Linked DNA regions of Homo sapiens: region 1 is linked to region 2. The links come from fine-mapping of genetic effects on gene expression. A gene starts in region 2. The other region holds a variant in brackets. All regions are shown on one strand. Distances are between the middles of the regions. Region 1 overlaps SRRM4 (serine/arginine repetitive matrix 4). Region 2 holds the start of SRRM4 (serine/arginine repetitive matrix 4).

Region 1 (8,328 bases), 180 kb after region 2:
ACACAGCTAGTAAGTGGCCAGGATAGTAGGCACAAAATAGAAGTTGTTGGTATTATTATTAACCACCGGTGGGGAGGGGCTTTCATTCTTTGATCGGGGCCCAGTTCCTCTGCCTGGCTTCCAGAAAGAAAAAGGTCACTGCCCAGGGACCCGCTGAATAAAGCTCAAGCCGTCTTGGATAACCCAGGCGGACACTCAGCAGGCTCCTCAGAGGCTGTTACCTCTCCCCCAGGTCCTACTCCCGCTCTCCCAGCTATTCCTCCAAGTCTGGCAAGAGGAGCCCGCCCAGCAGAAGCTCTAGGTCCCGCCGCAGCCCTAGCTACTCCCGCTACAGCCCCAGCAGGTACCGGCCCCGCCCCTCAAACTAGGCCCGTCCTAGGCCCCACCCCTTTGCTCTGATCCTCCTCTCTGGCCCCGCCTCCCCGTTCTCGGGCCTTCTTCCTCTTAGGTCTGACCCTGACTCAGCATTCTTACAGTTCCCTTTGTCCAATCAGGAGTGGCAGCGAGGCATCAAATACCCTTGTTTCCTAATGTCTCCAGCCCAAACAGTCCCGCAGACATACCCCAGAATTCACATCCCCAGCCCTCAGCCTCTACAGACCGTCCCCATATTCAGAGCCCCCAGTTCTTACCCACGCACCAGGGCCTGCGTAACATTCACGTCCTCACCCCTGCAGCACCTGCCCTGCTATGATGCCCACCTGCAAATGCTGACACCCCTGCACAAGCCCAGCCCCCACCCCTACGGTACTAACAACCCTCGCAGACTCTTACCGCAGCCCCGTCATCCTCCCTCCGGTCTCCCTTGCGGCAACGTGCAGACCCCATCCCGTGACCCAGTGGGGTGGGAAAGAAAGGGAGTGTCCCTCTCCCACGCGCTCACGCAGAAAATCCAGCCCAGCCCCAGCTCCCCAGTAACCCCCCGCGCCCCTTCAGGGAGCGGGATCCCAAATACAGTGAGAAGGACTCGCAGCAGCGGGAGCGCGAGCGAGCGCGTCGGAGACGTCGGTCCTACTCGCCTATGAGAAAGCGCCGGAGAGACTCCCCGAGCCACCTGGAGGCCCGGAGGATAACCAGGTGAGGCCAGGGGGCAAGGGGGACCCACCTTCATCCTCGTTCCCACTCCCATTCTTACTCATTCGAGCCTCAGGCTCTCCCTAGGCCTCCTTGGGGCTGGGATTTAGGATTGTGCGAGCTTATGGTCCCCCCAACCCCAACATCATTGAAATTACGTGTCTGTTCAAAGCCTTGGGACTGAGTCTCCCAGCTCAACCAGCAGGGCCTGCAAGAAGGGGGCGGGGCCAGCCTGAAGAATCGGGTGTGGCATGGGGGAGTGGCCAAAGCCTGAGGGTGGAGCTGGGGCCGGGGAGGTGGAGCTGGGGCCGGGGAGGCGGAGCTGGGGGAGAGAGTGGCGTCAGGCCAGGGAATGGAGGCCAAAGCAATGGAGCAGGACCTTGGCCTGGTGGTGGATCCCGAGCAGCGGAGACAGACCTCTACCCTCAGACCTGTACACTCAGCTGTCAGGCTTAAATAAACCTATATGTAATTATACCTTGAACCAAGTGTGGAAAGGACAAACAGGATTGCTTAGTTCCCAAAGGGACCTAGAGGGAGCCACGGTGGATAAGCCGGAGAGCACTGGATGTGGATTGGAATCCTGAATGTACCACTTTGCAGGTGACCTAGGAAAGGCTCTTACCTTCCTGAGCCTCAGTTTTCTCACCCATGAGATATTGGAAGAAATAACTCCCAGAAGCATGAGGATGAAATGAAAAGGGGCAAAAAGATGTGAACGTGCTTTGTAAACTTGAATGCAGAGTACACAATGTGCCATTGTTGATTGAATGGTCAGAATAGGTGGATACCGTTCCTGGAACAGGTAAGGCCTCAGAAGAGAAAAGCTCTAGCAGAGAAGTCTGAGTGCAAGCAAATTTCTCAGGCCTTGAAAGCTGGGAGAATGATTGAATGCTGCCCTAAGATTGGGTTGGGCTCTTCCTGCTGGCCTTCCAGGCATCTGCCACTCAGTCCAGACACTGGACTGAGGAATCAGGGATTCTCCCTGGAGATGACCTGGAGGAGGAAAAAGAATGTGTTTCCCAGATAGCAAGGCTGGGGTGATGGGTCCCCTTCTCCAATATCCCACAGGGCACCCTGCCTCAGCTTGTAAAGAATTCCTAAACCCTTGGGAGGCCAAGGCAGGCGGATTGCTGGATCTCAGGAGTTTGAGACCTGCCTAGGCAATATGACAAGACCCTGTCTCTACCAAAAATACAAAACACTAGCCAGGCATGGTGGTGTGCACCTGTGGTCCCATCTACTTGGGAGGCTGAGGTGGGAGGATCATTTGAGCCTGGAGTGGGGTGGAGGTTGCAGTGAGCCGAGATCGCACCACTGCATTCCAACCTGGGTGACAGAGCGAGACCCTGTCTGAAAAAATGTAATTAATATAATATAATACAATATAATTCCTAGCATAATTTCTAAACCCACTCCCTTGATCCAGTGTCACACAGCTATTAAGTGGCCAGGATAATAAGCACAAAATAGAAGTTGTTGGTATTATTATTATCTTTGGGGTCAACCTAGAGGAAAGCTAAGATAGAGAGTGGCATTTCCAAATGGCTGTCTAGTTTCTTTAGTCAATCTCAAATAATTCATCTTGATTAACCCATTCAGTGTTTCCCAATCTTTAGTCATTCACCAGTATCTTGACCACATATGACTTGTCTGTTTATCAACTGTACTATTCTTAATTTTCTTTAAATAGATATGACTCTTTTCAAAGGTTCATACATTTATTTCTAAAGGAAACGATACAGTACAGTAAATGGAAAATTAGCCTCTTTTGCCATAAATAGATGGTTCTAGTAAAAGTAAAAATAGGAAAACAAAACTATGATTAAAGTTTAGATGTAGATTCTGTTGCAAGCTGAAGGCTCTGAGCTCCAGGCTTGCTTCATGGGGGAAAGAAAAAAGTGAGATAATCATTTTTCAAGACATACTAGCACTAAGCTGAGACTTTTACTTTGATGTGTTCTCAGCACTGCAAGAGAAGTGGAAAGGGAGTATTTTTTCCTAAGGGACTGGGGAAAGGGAGGATATTGGTTTCCCTTGGGACAAGACTGGGGCTCGCTGCGGGGAGGCACGGAGGGGCCGGCCCTCATCCCTCCTCTCTCTGGTCTCTGCAGTGCCCGGAAACGCCCCATCCCCTACTATCGGCCCAGCCCCTCCTCATCCGGCAGCCTCAGCAGCACCTCCTCCTGGTACAGCAGCAGCAGTAGCCGCTCGGCCAGCCGCAGCTACTCCCGGAGCCGGAGTCGGAGCCGGAGCCGGAGACGGAGCCGGACCCGCACGAGCAGCAGCTCTAGCTCCCGCAGCCCTAGTCCGGGCTCCCGCAGCCGGAGCCGGAGCAGGAGCCGGAGCCGGAGCCGGAGCAGGAGCCAGAGCCGGAGCTACAGCTCAGCAGACAGCTACTCCAGCACGAGGCGCTAAGTGCCCCTGAGCCAGCTGCCCGTGGGGGCCCCTTCGCGCTGCCAGCCTCCCCCAACCACCTGCCCTCCCCGCCTTCTTGGTGACAAATAGTGAGGGCTCCTATACCTTGTCCTTCCTGCTTGCCTAGGGGAAGAGGAGAAGAGGGTAAGGGGGCTTCACTCTCTAGATCAGCCTGCTAGGAGCCTCTACCAGCATCATCCTGGGGCCCAGCTCAGGCCTGGGCATATGGAAAGAACCATCATCTTGTGGCACAAAAAAAGAAGAAAGAAAAGAAAACTTCAAGGTTTTGTGAGAAGCAATGGGTCTGTGACTCAAAAATTGAGCCCTGGCCAGGAAAATGTGGAGACAGTTCTTCTCCTCCACTGCTCACAGGAGGCCCGTGGTAATTCTCCCCACCTCCCCGGATGCCCCACTAGTCCAACTTCATGGCTGCACGTGGATGGACCCCCATGTCTGAGAGGGGTGAAAGAGGAGACCAATGGCAGTTCAGGTTCAAGATAACGGGGTCAGGCCTTTAACTTCCTCAAACAGGCCCAAGCAAAGGCTGGAAGACATTTGGGTCCTAGAAGAAGGGATATCCTTGAATACCAGATGGGGACGTTTGACTTGGTGGGAGGTGTCAGGAGATAGGAGTTGGTTAAGATGATAGATAGAAAAACGGAAGGGTTCAGCTGCTGCTCCCAATACCTCAGCATGGTAAGGGGACAGAGCCCAGCAGATCCCAGCTGTGAAGAGGCCACTGCATGGCTGACACAAAACACCTCTTGGCCATTCACAGGGGCCCTGCAACCTCACGAGAAAGGAGATAGTGGAAGAGTCAGGACAGGTTGGTCTCCAGCCCCACTTCCCAAATATGCCTCAGCCCCACTAGCTGGCACCAACTTAATTCCACGGGACCATCTGCTGAACATTCCCCAGTGCCATGGCCAGTTGCCAGGCCCCAGCGCCAGCCAGTCTGGCCTTACCCTCCGGTTGGCGCCTGCCAGCCCCCTCCCCTCTGCCCAGGCTGCCACGCCCTGGATGCCACCCAGTGCAGCCTGGCACCTACCCACCCACCCTTCAGCTTAAGCCACTCCCCTTGCCTCTCAGGAATTTTGCCAGGATGGGGCACAGCAGCTCAGGTTTGGGGGAAAAGACCC[G/A]AATCCAGAGTGCAGGGGAGAGGGGCTTGGATATGCCATGTCTTGGGCTCCTGCTGGCTTCTGAGGTTTCTTGTCAGCTTGGGAAAGACCCACCTTTATTTTTGCCCTCACCCCAAGTCCCCCCTGGCTGGGGCTGGGCAGAGAGGGTAAGCTGATCTCCGATCCACAAATACCACCAGCTGCTTCATCCACAGAAGGCGCTAAGAACGGGGAGGTGAGGAATAAGATCCTTAAAATAAACTCTTGGGCATCCCCCTCACCAGCTGACTGGCTTTCCGGAGGCTTGTGGGTGAGTTTCAAGTTTGTGGTGGCAACAGCAGCAGGACAGGGCACGGAGGGAGCGAGGGAGAGAGGACCGGTCCCAGCTTTTGGATATTTTGGGTTATGGGGAAGCAAGGGCCAAACATTCTTTATCCCTCCCACCCCAGGGAAAACATTTGGAAAATAGTCCTTTTTCTTGGAAGCAGTGACGTCTCCCTACCCAATCTTTCCCATCCTATCAACCCATGGGGCTAGAGACTGCCATGCAACCACCACCACGACAGCCCTTCCTCCATCAGAAGACAGGAGTGAGGGCCCCGGGCAGCAGTGGACGACCCAGCCTCCCCATACCGGGCCTCTGGCCCAGACCTAAGCCCTGCCCACAAAGACTAATGGATGCCAGTGCTGTCACTGCAGAAGGCCAGATGGCAGGTGCCTGGGACAGGGGCAGGTGCCCCGGGGAGGGCAAGTACAGCCACTGTAAATAACCCTCGTCCCTGCCCAGGAACCCAGACTGGACTTCAGTCTCCCTCCATGGAGACAAAGGCTTCCCAGAGCCACCAAAAACCTTCTTAGCAGGACAGCTGTGAGAGGCATCAGAACCTCACGTTCGGACTGCCTTCATCAAGACAACTCTAGGGGACCATTTTGCCTGGGGCTCCTAGCAAACCTTTTTATTTATTTTATTTATTTATCTATTTATTTATTTGATGACTGTCTCTCTTTCTCGCCATTAGCAGTATTGAATTATTTATTTATACAGAGGTTTTGTGTGTGTGTGTGTGTGTGTGTGTGTGTGTGTGTGTGTGTGTGTGTGTGTTGGGGGGATCTCCTAAATTATTTCTGTGCATCTCCTTTTTTTTTCTGCTGTTTTTTATGGATGGGATTTGAGAGGCCAAAGGTGAGTGGGCTATTGGCCTTCTCCCTGAAGGCTCTAAGCCTGGAACACCCTGGGGTTGGCCCAGAAGGAGGCACATCAGTCCCAAAATTCATCACTTAACCCAGCGTCCAGGAGGGTCAGGCCTGTACCCCAGCCTCCTGTCCCCCAGGAACCTCACAGGGGTATCAAAAAGATGTAAACAGCCCAGAGGCTTATGAGCTACAGTGATGAATTGACACAGTGGAGTTGCAACTTAGGTGGGGGTTGGAGTCGAAAGTTGGCAAATGGGGCCAAGGCTGCACAAAGTCGAAATCCCTTGTGAATGTCCCTTAGGGAGGCACCAGATTGGAGACAGATGTGCTATCTCCTAACAGAGTGATGAGGCTTCAGTTGAGTACTTGCTGAAGTAGTTGCCTTGTATTTTGAGGGCCATGGTGGATGAAAATGATGTCTGGTTTAGTACTGGAATTGCACTTGGGGTTGACAAGGTGCTCACACCATGAGAATGGAGGCAGGAATTGAGCTGACTGAGGGAAGATGCACCTTGATCTCACCCTCACTCCAAGGCACATAGCAGGATCACTCCCTAGCTTCTCTGAGCACACCTAGTTGGTTTCATGTATGTTACACATGCTTCCACTCCACAGTACCTAATTTCTCTCTGTCCCCTGAGATCTGAAGGCTACCTTGGGAAGAGGCATCAGCCATCTTGCTTGAGAACCACCAAGCCAAAAGCAAAAGCTTTTATCTATGATCTCTTGCTGTTTCATCAGGGGAAAGCACAAAGCTATTTCTGAAATTAGGAAAAAAAAAAAAAAGGTGGAAGGAGCAGCCAGATGTTCCACAGGACCCCACCAAGAAGGTCATTTCCAAACCCATCCTGGAAGGGCCCAGGATCCAAAGGTCATCAGTCCTGCTTATCTGACCAACTGGCAGTGTCTTCTGGCTGCTGGCCGGAGACAGCTCTTGCCCTTTCCAAAGTCACTGTCCACTGCCTTGCAATTGCCAGCTTGTCTGGTCCAGCTTTGGGTTTGGTGAGACTTTTGCAACATCCCTGGTTGTTTCCCTGGCAATGTGACTATCCAGCCCTAACCCAAAGCAAGGGAGTGCCCCTTTCCTGGGTGAAGTTTACAAGAAGGCTGCTTAAATGCCTGCTTCGGGGAAATCTCTGCCTCTCTCTCTCTCTGTCTCTCTCTCTGTCTCTCTCTCTGTCTCTCTCTCTCTCTCTCTCTCTCTCTCTCTCTCAGTGTATTTCTCTACTTTCTTTTACATTTCCTTTTTTTCTATCCAAAAACAATGTGCTTGTTGAGGCACTGGTAACCCTGATTAACCAGAACCTCCCATTCCCAGTATCGCTGTTCCTACGCCCATTTCACCCTCATTACCTTCTGCTTCCAAGGAATATGACAGATCACCAGGATGCTGCTCGTCGTGAGGATTTATCTCAAAAACCAACATCCAAAATGGGAGGGAGATGTGGCTTGAGGTCAAGCGCCATGCATCCCAAGCCTTTGACCTTCCCGCTATGGAAGTGCACTGGATGACAGAAACTGAATACATTGCTCCCTTTCCCTAGGGCAAAGTTCGACCTCTGTTAAGTGGAGGGATTTGTGAGATAAAAATTCAAAATGTTGGCCTGAGGCCTGAGAGTGTCACCAAAGACAGAGGGAGCTTCACTGAGACTCAGAGGGAAAAGGAAAAGAGCCTCAAACATTTTTAGGAGGTTGTCCATCATGAAAGTAAAAACGAAAAGCAAGATTTGATCTCCCTTCAGTTAATTAGGCAAGGCTAAGTAACTCAAAGCCCCCTATTAGTAACATTCTGGTTCACTGAGGTTTGATCATATTCCTATCTGCATTCCTTCCCTTCTTTGAAGGACAGCTGATCTTTCAGAAGCAGAATAAAATTAAGATGTTAGAACAAAGGTCTCAGTCTCAGAGAACCGCATCACTTCATTTGCTCAGACCCATCCTCTTTTGCAAAAGGGTCTGCTTGGAGAGGCCAAAATTCAGGGTGCTCTCAAAGGCAAAGAAAGCACATTGTTTTCCTTCTCCAGTCCAACTTTCATCTTTTCTTCTGCTGTTTTCTTTTCCCCTCTTCTTTTTCACAAATGTTCAAAATGGTCTCATGCGCATGTGTCTTGCCCCACTTTCCCCTTTAGCTGAACAGAAAATTTTGTCTCAGTAAAACGAAGTCAAAAAACAGGATTCCTCCAAACATGCCTCCTCCCGCACTGGCCAGCCGAGTCCAGCTGAGAAACTTATGCTAGATTCAATGTCATTGAGCAATGCTTTATTGAAGTCTCGTTCTTCTCACTTCTGCACCAGTGAGCCAATGATACTGACAGAAATGTCATCTCTCTTCTATCTGTGGTTGCTGTTTTTGGAGTAAAAGTTTCTGTGTGTGTTTTTTTAGTTCTTTTGATGGCTGTTGTTTTGCATTGTAAATACCATGATGGGGGACCCCCATCAGAACATGGCTTATTTAATAATTTATTTCGTATTTATTGAGTAATATTGGGAAAAGAGAAGGACCACCTCTTTCCCTGAATTGCTA
Region 2 (8,328 bases):
AATAAATAATCTTGTAATTTGAATGGTTTAGCATGATCTTGTTTAAAGACATAAAGACCGATGAATTGGTCTCATTATCATATTTCCCATCATCTCAGTAATTATTTGAATCTTTTGCTGTTCCCTGGACTTTTAGAAATGGGTACAGACTGTCAAGTTCTCTGATGCTGGTAGATAATGGTTGGCTCCATTGTACTCAGAGAAATCGTGGACACAGAAAGATTAAGAGATTTACCCAAGGTAACATGGTAATGTTAGTGAGGTGGGATTTGAACTGCCTCAGGAGAAGGGGTAGCTATTTCTCTGAGCTGGAGGTGCTGTATCTTTGGATCACTAAGGAGAAGGTTGCATAAGAATCTTCTTAGCTCCTGCTCTAGAGTGCCTGGGTTTGCAAAGTTTAGAATCATTTCTCCCTGCTGTCCCTTTTTTCAAATGAAAGAACAATACCAATCAGGTAAAGAAACATTCTCTAGACATGGATGGCAAATTGATTTTATCTGGAATGCCAAGACCAAACTATTAGTAGTGGCTATCTAGAAACTGTGTGTTAAGAAGGATTCTGAGGGTCGGTCTGAGAAAGAGTATTGTGAAGGATCAGTGATGTCTACCATCAGTATAGCACAGAGGGCAAGGAATAATTGTGCCATAAGTTTATATTCATTAACCAGCATATTAATAGGTCCTTGTTTATGGGGTGGGCTGGCTTGCATCTGGGGAAACAGAAAGCAATACCCGGAAGGAATGAGGCACAAGATGGTTCTATTTTAATAAAGTGATGGAGGAACTGGAGTTCACGTTATATTGGAGAAGCCAGACCTAAAGCAGAAGTCACTGTGATAAGATGAAAAGGGGACAAGTGTTAGTCAGTGGAGACCCAGAAGGAGAATTAGGCTGTGAACTGCTTCAGGGAAGGGACTATGTCTGGTTTGTCTTTGAGTCCTCCGTGCCCAGGACTGTGCCTGGCCAAGATGCAAGATTGGGCATCAGTTAATGATTATTGAACTGAATATGGCCTGACTTAACATAGTAACAGGTGATTATTCCAAGATCATGAGCAAGAAGAGCTACCATTGAATGGTCACTTGCTATAAACTGGACAATTTATTAAGTCCTTTACCAGTAATATTTCATTTAATCTTCCCAACCACGATGTGATATCTCCACTTTTGCAAATGAGGAAACAAAGGCAGAGGTTAGTTATTAGCCCAAGCTCATACAGCTACAAAGTGGCAGAGCTGGGCTTCATATCCTAGTTCTCTCTAAATCCACAGGCTGGGCTTTTAACCACTTGAGTAATTGATATTTTTGAGTAAACTGTGTTTCAGACACATTCTAGAACCTGTATGTGTGTTAATTCCTTCAATCCTCACAGCTAGTTCATCTAAACATATTATTTATAATCTTTATAGAATCTTCATGAAACCCCATCTCTACTAAAAATACAAAAAAAATTAGCTGGGCCGTCGTGGCAGGCGCCTGCAATCCCAGCTACTAGTGAGGCTGAGAAAGGAGAATGGCTTGAACCTGAGAGGCGGAGGTTGCAGTGAGCTGAGATCACACCACTGCATTTCAGCCTGGGCAACAGAGCGAGACTCTGTCTCAAAAAAAAATTCTTCATAGTATTGATAAAGAAACTGTGACATAGGCAAGTGAAATCCCTCCTCCAACATTACACAGCTAGGAAATGGCAGAGCTGGAATTTGAAGCCAGGCATTCTGGATTCCAAGTCCTGAACTGATTACTGCAGACTCCCAATTTAGGAACCTCAACACCAGGTGCTTCTAAGTATGTGACTCATTGTTATCTGATTTATTTTTAAATGGTGGTCCATCCTGATATGCGTAGTATCCCACTCCATCCTCCACCCCACCAAGCAAAAACAGAAACTGTATTTTTCACAAATTTCCTTTGCTTCCTACAGGATCACCCTGGGGAAGTCACTTGGTCATCCTCAACTTCTTCATGTTTAAAACAGAGTAAGATCGAATAGCAGGTCTACGTTTTTTAACTTTTATTTTAAGTTCAGGGGTACAAGCGCAGGTTTGTTACATAGGTAGACTTGTGTCACGGGGGTTCGTCGAACAGATTATTTCATCACCCAGGTATTTAGCCTAGTACCCATTAGTTATTTCTCCTGATCCTCTCCCTCCTCCCAACTTCCACCCTCCAAAAGGCCCCAGTGTGTGTTATTCCCATCTATATGCCCATGTGTTCTCATCATTTAGCTCCCATTTATAAGTGAGAACATGTGGTATCAGGTTTTCTGTTCCTATGTTAGTTTGCTAAGGATAATGACCTCCAGCTCCACTCATGTCCCTGCAAAGGACATGATATTCTTTTCATGGCTGCGTAGTATTCCATGGTGTATATGTACCACAACTTCTTTATCCAGTCTATCACTGATGGGCATTTAGGTTGATTCCATGTCTTTGCTATTGTGAGTAGTGCTGCAGTGAACATACACATGCATGTGTCTTTATAAAAGAATGAGCAGGTCTACTTTTAGTTCTTTGAGAAATCTTCATACTGTTTTCCATAGTTGTTGTACCAATTTACATCCACACCAACAGTGTATAACTGTTCCCTTTTCACTGCATCTACACCATCTATTTTTTTTTTTTACTTTTTAATAATGGCCTTTTGGGGGTAAGGTACTATTCGGGTGACAGGTATGTAAAAGCCCAGACTTCATCACTATACAATTCATCCATGTAACCAAAAAACACTTGCACCCTTAAAGCTATTGAAATAAGATAAATAAATAAAATAGAATAAGATCAGCTTTCTCTCCCACCTCATCTGGCTACGATGGGATTTTAAAAAGGCAATGTTTTGCATATGGGAGCTCTATCAACATTTTAGGGATTAGGAGCAGGCACACAACTGGAAGATGTTGACTGATCTTGTGGGGGTAGGATCCCACCTACCTCTCTCCTGCAAGTGACTCAGTTCATACCCTAAATGTCATGACTAAGGTTAGTTTTAAAGATGCCAGTCTGCTACCTATAAGAAGCCAGCTCTAGATTGCATTTACAATGATACCAACTTCTGGGTGGGAAACGGGGGTCTAGCCCAATCAGGGAATGGGGGATTTGGGGCGCAAGGTAAGAGGGAGAGGAAGGGAAGGGGTTAGCCTAGTCTCCACTTTGCTCCATCTCCAACCTTCCCAGGCCTGACCCCCACCTCTGGGCCCTCTCCCCCGGCAACCCACATAAGAAGCCAGCAAATGCACCTCTCGTTGTTGACCAGAAGGGGTCACTGCAGAGCAAGTAGCGCTCTCAGGCACTCAAATAAGCGGACGCAGGCGTGTCGAACACACACACTTCAAACGTAGATACCCTTTGGGGCGGGTACTCATTTACTCCAAGGTTCTTTCTTCTCCTGCCCCATCTTATCCTCTCTGTTGGCCTCTTCATCTTCACCTCCTAGTTACCTCCTGTTCCCCTTCAGAGAATTTCTGGAGTTCCCATTGTTCTCCCGACCCCCCCGCCCTACCCCGCCCTCATTGGGTCCCCATTGCTATCTGCTTTAGCAAAGAGCAGGAGTTTATTCTCGCTGTGACTGGGACTCAGCACCAGGTGCTTGGAGGCATTTAAGACTGAGCGAGGCCTCCTTCCAGGAATTTACAGCCTGGAAAGTGGAAGCGGGGTTGGGGGGAGGGGGAGGGCGTTAGGTGGGAGATGGGGGAGTAACAACTCTGCTAAGATTAAAAGGCTTCCAGGAAGGCAAGGGCTGAGGGGTCCCGCCACGATCTCTTTTTTTTATAATGAAAACCCTGGGGGAAAACAAGAGTCATTCTAACCAGATCTTCTGTGTCTGGGGTTGATTTGGGATTCTAAACCTCCACTTGCTTGGGATTACGATTGAACTGCGAGGCGGTAAGGAGATGGGGAGGAGAGACCGAAAAGTAACTATCCCCCTGCTAATCCTCGAGATTTTCCTCTCCAACCCTCCCACTAAGCGCTTTCTTTTCCAAAACGTACTCCTTTCCCGAGACTAGCGGCATTAGGAAAAGTGGCTGCAGGCGGATTCCCCAGGAGTGGATGGGGGTGGGGTGGGGTGAGATGGGAACTCTTTCCTCTGGACGGGGTTGGCGGCGGGGACGCTGGGCAGGCCGGCTGTGAGACACAAAAGAGATACCCTTGACAGCTCCGCATGCACAGATGTAACGCTGCGCCCCTTGGCGGGCGGGGGCCCTGCTCGGCAGATGGCGAGAAGCCGAATTGGTGAGGGATTGTCTATCAAATGGCACTTTCTGGGTGGTGGAGACCTCGCTAACCCCCGGCGCAAAGAGGAACGCAGGGCACCCTCTGTACCGGCCTAGGCCGTGTCTCCCAAAAGTGAGGGTCTGGGGGAGGCCGGCTGGGGTGGATAGATTAAGTTTTTTACGAGCCCCCCCAACCCCCCCCCCCCCCCCACGCAGAAGATCAGCTACAAGACTTGCGAAGGGGCTGGAAAGAAAGGTGGCCTGGCCCAAAGGGGGCACCCAGGAAAGGGCTGAGGAAGGCCAGCGATGATGGGAGAGGAGAGGGGCCTGGGAAGCAGGATCTCCTGCCTGGCGCAGATTGGGGTGCCAGGATGGCTTCTCAGAGGGATCAGCGCTGCAACTCGGTCGCCGCGGGGCCCTGGTGACAGGCGCACGCCCCGCCCTTTCTCCTCCCAAGACCTGCGGGCTTTTGTTATGCAGATGGCGGCAGGAGGCTGAGCCTGAGGAGGAGGGGGTTGGTGGGGAGGAGGAGAGACGGAGAGGGGGGAGGAAAGTGCAGCTCGCGCGACCAGCCTCCTCTTCCAACGTCACATTGTGCGAGAGACAAAACCCGGGCGCGCCGGAGCTCACACGCGCACGCACACACATCCGACCCCGTCGCCTCTTCTCTCCTGGTGCTGCCCAGAAAGCCAGCCCTCCCTTCCCTTCTTGGGGCGCAGAGGCTCAGCCAGCTCAGAGCGCAGCCTGGAGCCGACCCAGAAGGGCGAAGAAAGCCCAGCGGACGAGCCTCCTTTCTCTGCTGCCTGCCCGGGCTGGGGCGTCCCATCCCCCGCCCTGAACTCCGATCTCTCCCACCCCACCCCTCTCTGGGTTTCACCCGGACAGAGCCGGGAGCTGGGTGTCGCCCCCGTTTGGAATCCACGTTTCAGCACTTTGGACAGCGCCCCGGACGCCCCGGCCCCTTTGGGTTGGCGATGGCGAGCGTTCAGCAAGGCGAGAAGCAGCTTTTTGAGAAGTTCTGGCGAGGAACCTTCAAAGCGGTGGCCACCCCCCGTCCCGAGAGCATCATTGTCGCCAGTATCACGGCCCGCAAGCCGCTGCCAAGGTAATGATCTCCTTCTTAGAAGGGGGGATCCTGAAGGTCCTCCTTTCTGGCCTGTGCCCCAGAGCCCGGAGGGGTGGATGCAGGCAGCCGGGCCAGGGCGCCTGTCTTTTCCCGTCACTACTCGGCGGCTCCCGCTGAAACATGGGAACTCATTGCTTGTGTGAGGTGGAAGATGGTGAGAAGGGACAGGAATTCTTTGGGGGAAAGCAACGCTTATTGGACCCCCGTAGCTCCTATTCAAGAGGTTTTGCTACCTGAGGGTGGGCGGTGCAGATGGGGTACGACTTGACTGAAAAACTTTTCTTGGTGTCACAGAGTCCAGAGGGCAGGTGGGCCAAGGAATGGTGGATTTGAGATGTTTGGGGGGTGTTGTACCAGAAAAGGAGAACTGAGCCAGCTCAAGCAGCGTTCAGAGATAGCACACATTTCCATCCTCGGCTCGGAAACTAGCGAGCTTTGAACATTTTTGACAAAAGCCCATATGCTGTTCCCTCAAATACACCCAAAACAGCACCCTCCTCCACGCCTTTCTGGCGGCTGCTGCCGCTGCTGCTGAATTCTCTCCTCTCCAGCATCCAAAACCAAGACTCTGAGCTCAGGAGTCAGGGAGGAGCCTTCCAAGATCGTGAAGATGATCTTGGAAGAGTTTTATTTTGTTTTTTTTTGTTTTTTTTTTTTTTTTCCAAAAAGAATCTGATTGCTTTGAACTCAGGGATGAGAACCGATCCTTGGATGGTGGTAGACATGGTGCTGATGGAAGGAAGAATAAGGGAAGAAATGAAAGAAACAGGGGAACAGGAGGTGGGGTGAGAGGGAGAGGAGGTTGGGGGAAAATGGAAGCATTCCAAGACAGAGAAAAATCCAATTCTTTTCATAAATCATTCAATTTAGAGGAGTTTAAGAATGAAGGGAAGAAGGCTGTGCTCTCTGTCAGGGAAAATCAAGGTAGTATGAAAACTCATCTTTTGCTGGTGTTGGATGAGTGGTTTAGTAGGAGAAAAGAAAGAAGTGGACCAGGGGGACCACTTGGAGGATTTATTAATCCTGGCAGTCTGCATTAGGGAGCAGATTGAAAACATGTCTGCAAAAGTGCTTAGGACAGACTGAACGTCTGTTCTGGCACAACTGATTCTGAACTTTCCAGTGAGTGTGAGGTGGAAGACGTATGGGAAATTATGTCTGAAGAATCAAAGCCAGATTGGAGAAGTTTTCCTCTTCACTGTCTTATTGAGGATCATACAGGTCTTTAGAGAAATAGGTGTCCCATTTAGGAATGGGTGGCCAAGCATCACAACAGGCCAGTAGGGTGTAGCAGGCTTCAAGCTAAAGCAGCACCAGCCAGTGTTTGCAGACGGGAAGGAGGGGACACCCACCCACCCACTGACACAGGCTGGAGAAGGGGAACAATAATACCAAATGCCATTAAAGGCTGATGCTTCTCTGCTCCGAAGGAGGTTCTGTGTATAGAGTTTTGACGTCAGTGGTTTTTATCTTCCTGGGTTTCTGCTATCTATTCCACCTTTGGAACGTACCTACTGTTGGCTAATCAGGTGCTGCACTGGCCAAAGAAAATGCCCTTGTAGAAGGAACTAGAGGAAATTTCACAGGAAACTAGAAGTATGGCATTTAGTCCAGAGTCTTCCATCTATTTTAGGGGTGCAGGGAGAGGAAAGCGGATTCTTGGTGGTGTTTTGATTCAGGAAAGCACACCTATTATCTGCCTTGCTTGGTACTTTCCACTTTTGTCTGTCTCTCTGTTACTGTCCTGCCCTTTTCTTGGTCATATTTGCAATCACATGAATGGCCCACAAGGTCTTTCAACCCTCATCCTTTCTGCAGCTTTTTGCTAATTCTAATGTAATCCTGAGACTTTTATAATACTCCACTCCCCCTCTGCAACCAGTATCATTTCACTCTTGGTGCCTTTTAATGTCGTGGGTCTCCTTTGCCCTAGAAACCACCCCTGAGGTGAAAGCCTGAACCATAAGCCCTGGATTTATGTCACGCTAGGAGAATCCTGTGTAATACTTCTGTAATAGGCGTGGCCTCTCTGTAGAACAGATTCCGGTTTTATAACTGTTACTCCTGGTTTGGGGTAGAGAGTGAGAAGGGAACATTTGTTTCCAAGTCCTCAGGAAAGGTTGGATTGGAGTTGTCTTTTAACAGACTGGATAAAACCTGAATCATCCCCATTCTCACCCAAGCCAGCCACATCCAGTGACATTCAATTTCCACTTCCTTTTCAACATTCTACACTTACTTAAGGGTGAAAGTACCATGTTTCCAAAGCTGAGTTCTCAAGAGGAAAGAAGACAGAGGCATTGGCACAATATCAGCTGGGTTTGGGTGGCTTCCTCTAGAGGCAATCTGGGGACTTGGTCTCATCAGAAATGTCGTTTAGTTCCATGAGTCAAGCCCAGATCACAGTCGGCAAACCAGCACATGTAGCAGTCTGCAGGGGGATGGCAGGGAGTGGGTGGAGGAACCACTAGTCAGTCCTGTTGGTGTCACACTTAATATTTGTTTATAGATGAAGGCCACCCCTCTGAATAAACTTCCTCAGGATATTTTAAGTCTATCTCTCAAGGTAATTTAGTACCAGGATAGAAACATATATTCAATTCATTGATTTCATAGCAATATGCATACATCATGCAACTGCAATCTAAGCAACCCCCTGCTTAGTCTCTCTTTCTCCTCTACCCCTCTGTGGGGCATACTTGATGAGGCAATAGCTTTATAATGTATCAAATTGCAACCAGATGTCTGCCTCAAATGTCAGAACAGTAGAGCAGAGTGGGAAGCAGTATATCATAGTGGTTAAGAGCTCAGACTTGAGCATGAGACAACCTGGATTCCTGTCCTGGTTCTATCATTTACTAGCTGTGTATCCTGAACAAATAGTTTTACCACACTGAGCTTGAAAATAGAAATAATAACAGTAACCCCTCAGACAACAGGTTGTAAGGATTTAGTTAGGTAAAGCTCTACCCCTATGTGTGGTGCATGGTGTTGT

The links.
Region 1: its variant is fine-mapped to the expression of SRRM4 in lung (TOPMed, PIP above 0.99).

The regions. Positions count from the first base shown.
Region 1 is chr12:119,153,307-119,161,634 of GRCh38, forward strand. SRRM4 (serine/arginine repetitive matrix 4) reads left to right here. Exons shown (of 13, transcript NM_194286.4): 11 at 233-343; 12 at 937-1,077; 13 at 3,189-8,328. The coding sequence ends at 3,492. Among named protein-coding and RNA genes, the nearest start is that of HSPB8, 21 kb to the right of the region's middle. RefSeq lists enhancers at 333-865, 866-1,396. The variant G/A (reference allele first, on the strand shown) is at 4,632.
Region 2 is chr12:118,976,702-118,985,029 of GRCh38, forward strand. It overlaps SRRM4 (serine/arginine repetitive matrix 4), which reads left to right and starts at 4,840. Exons shown (of 13, transcript NM_194286.4): 1 at 4,840-5,312. The coding sequence starts at 5,182.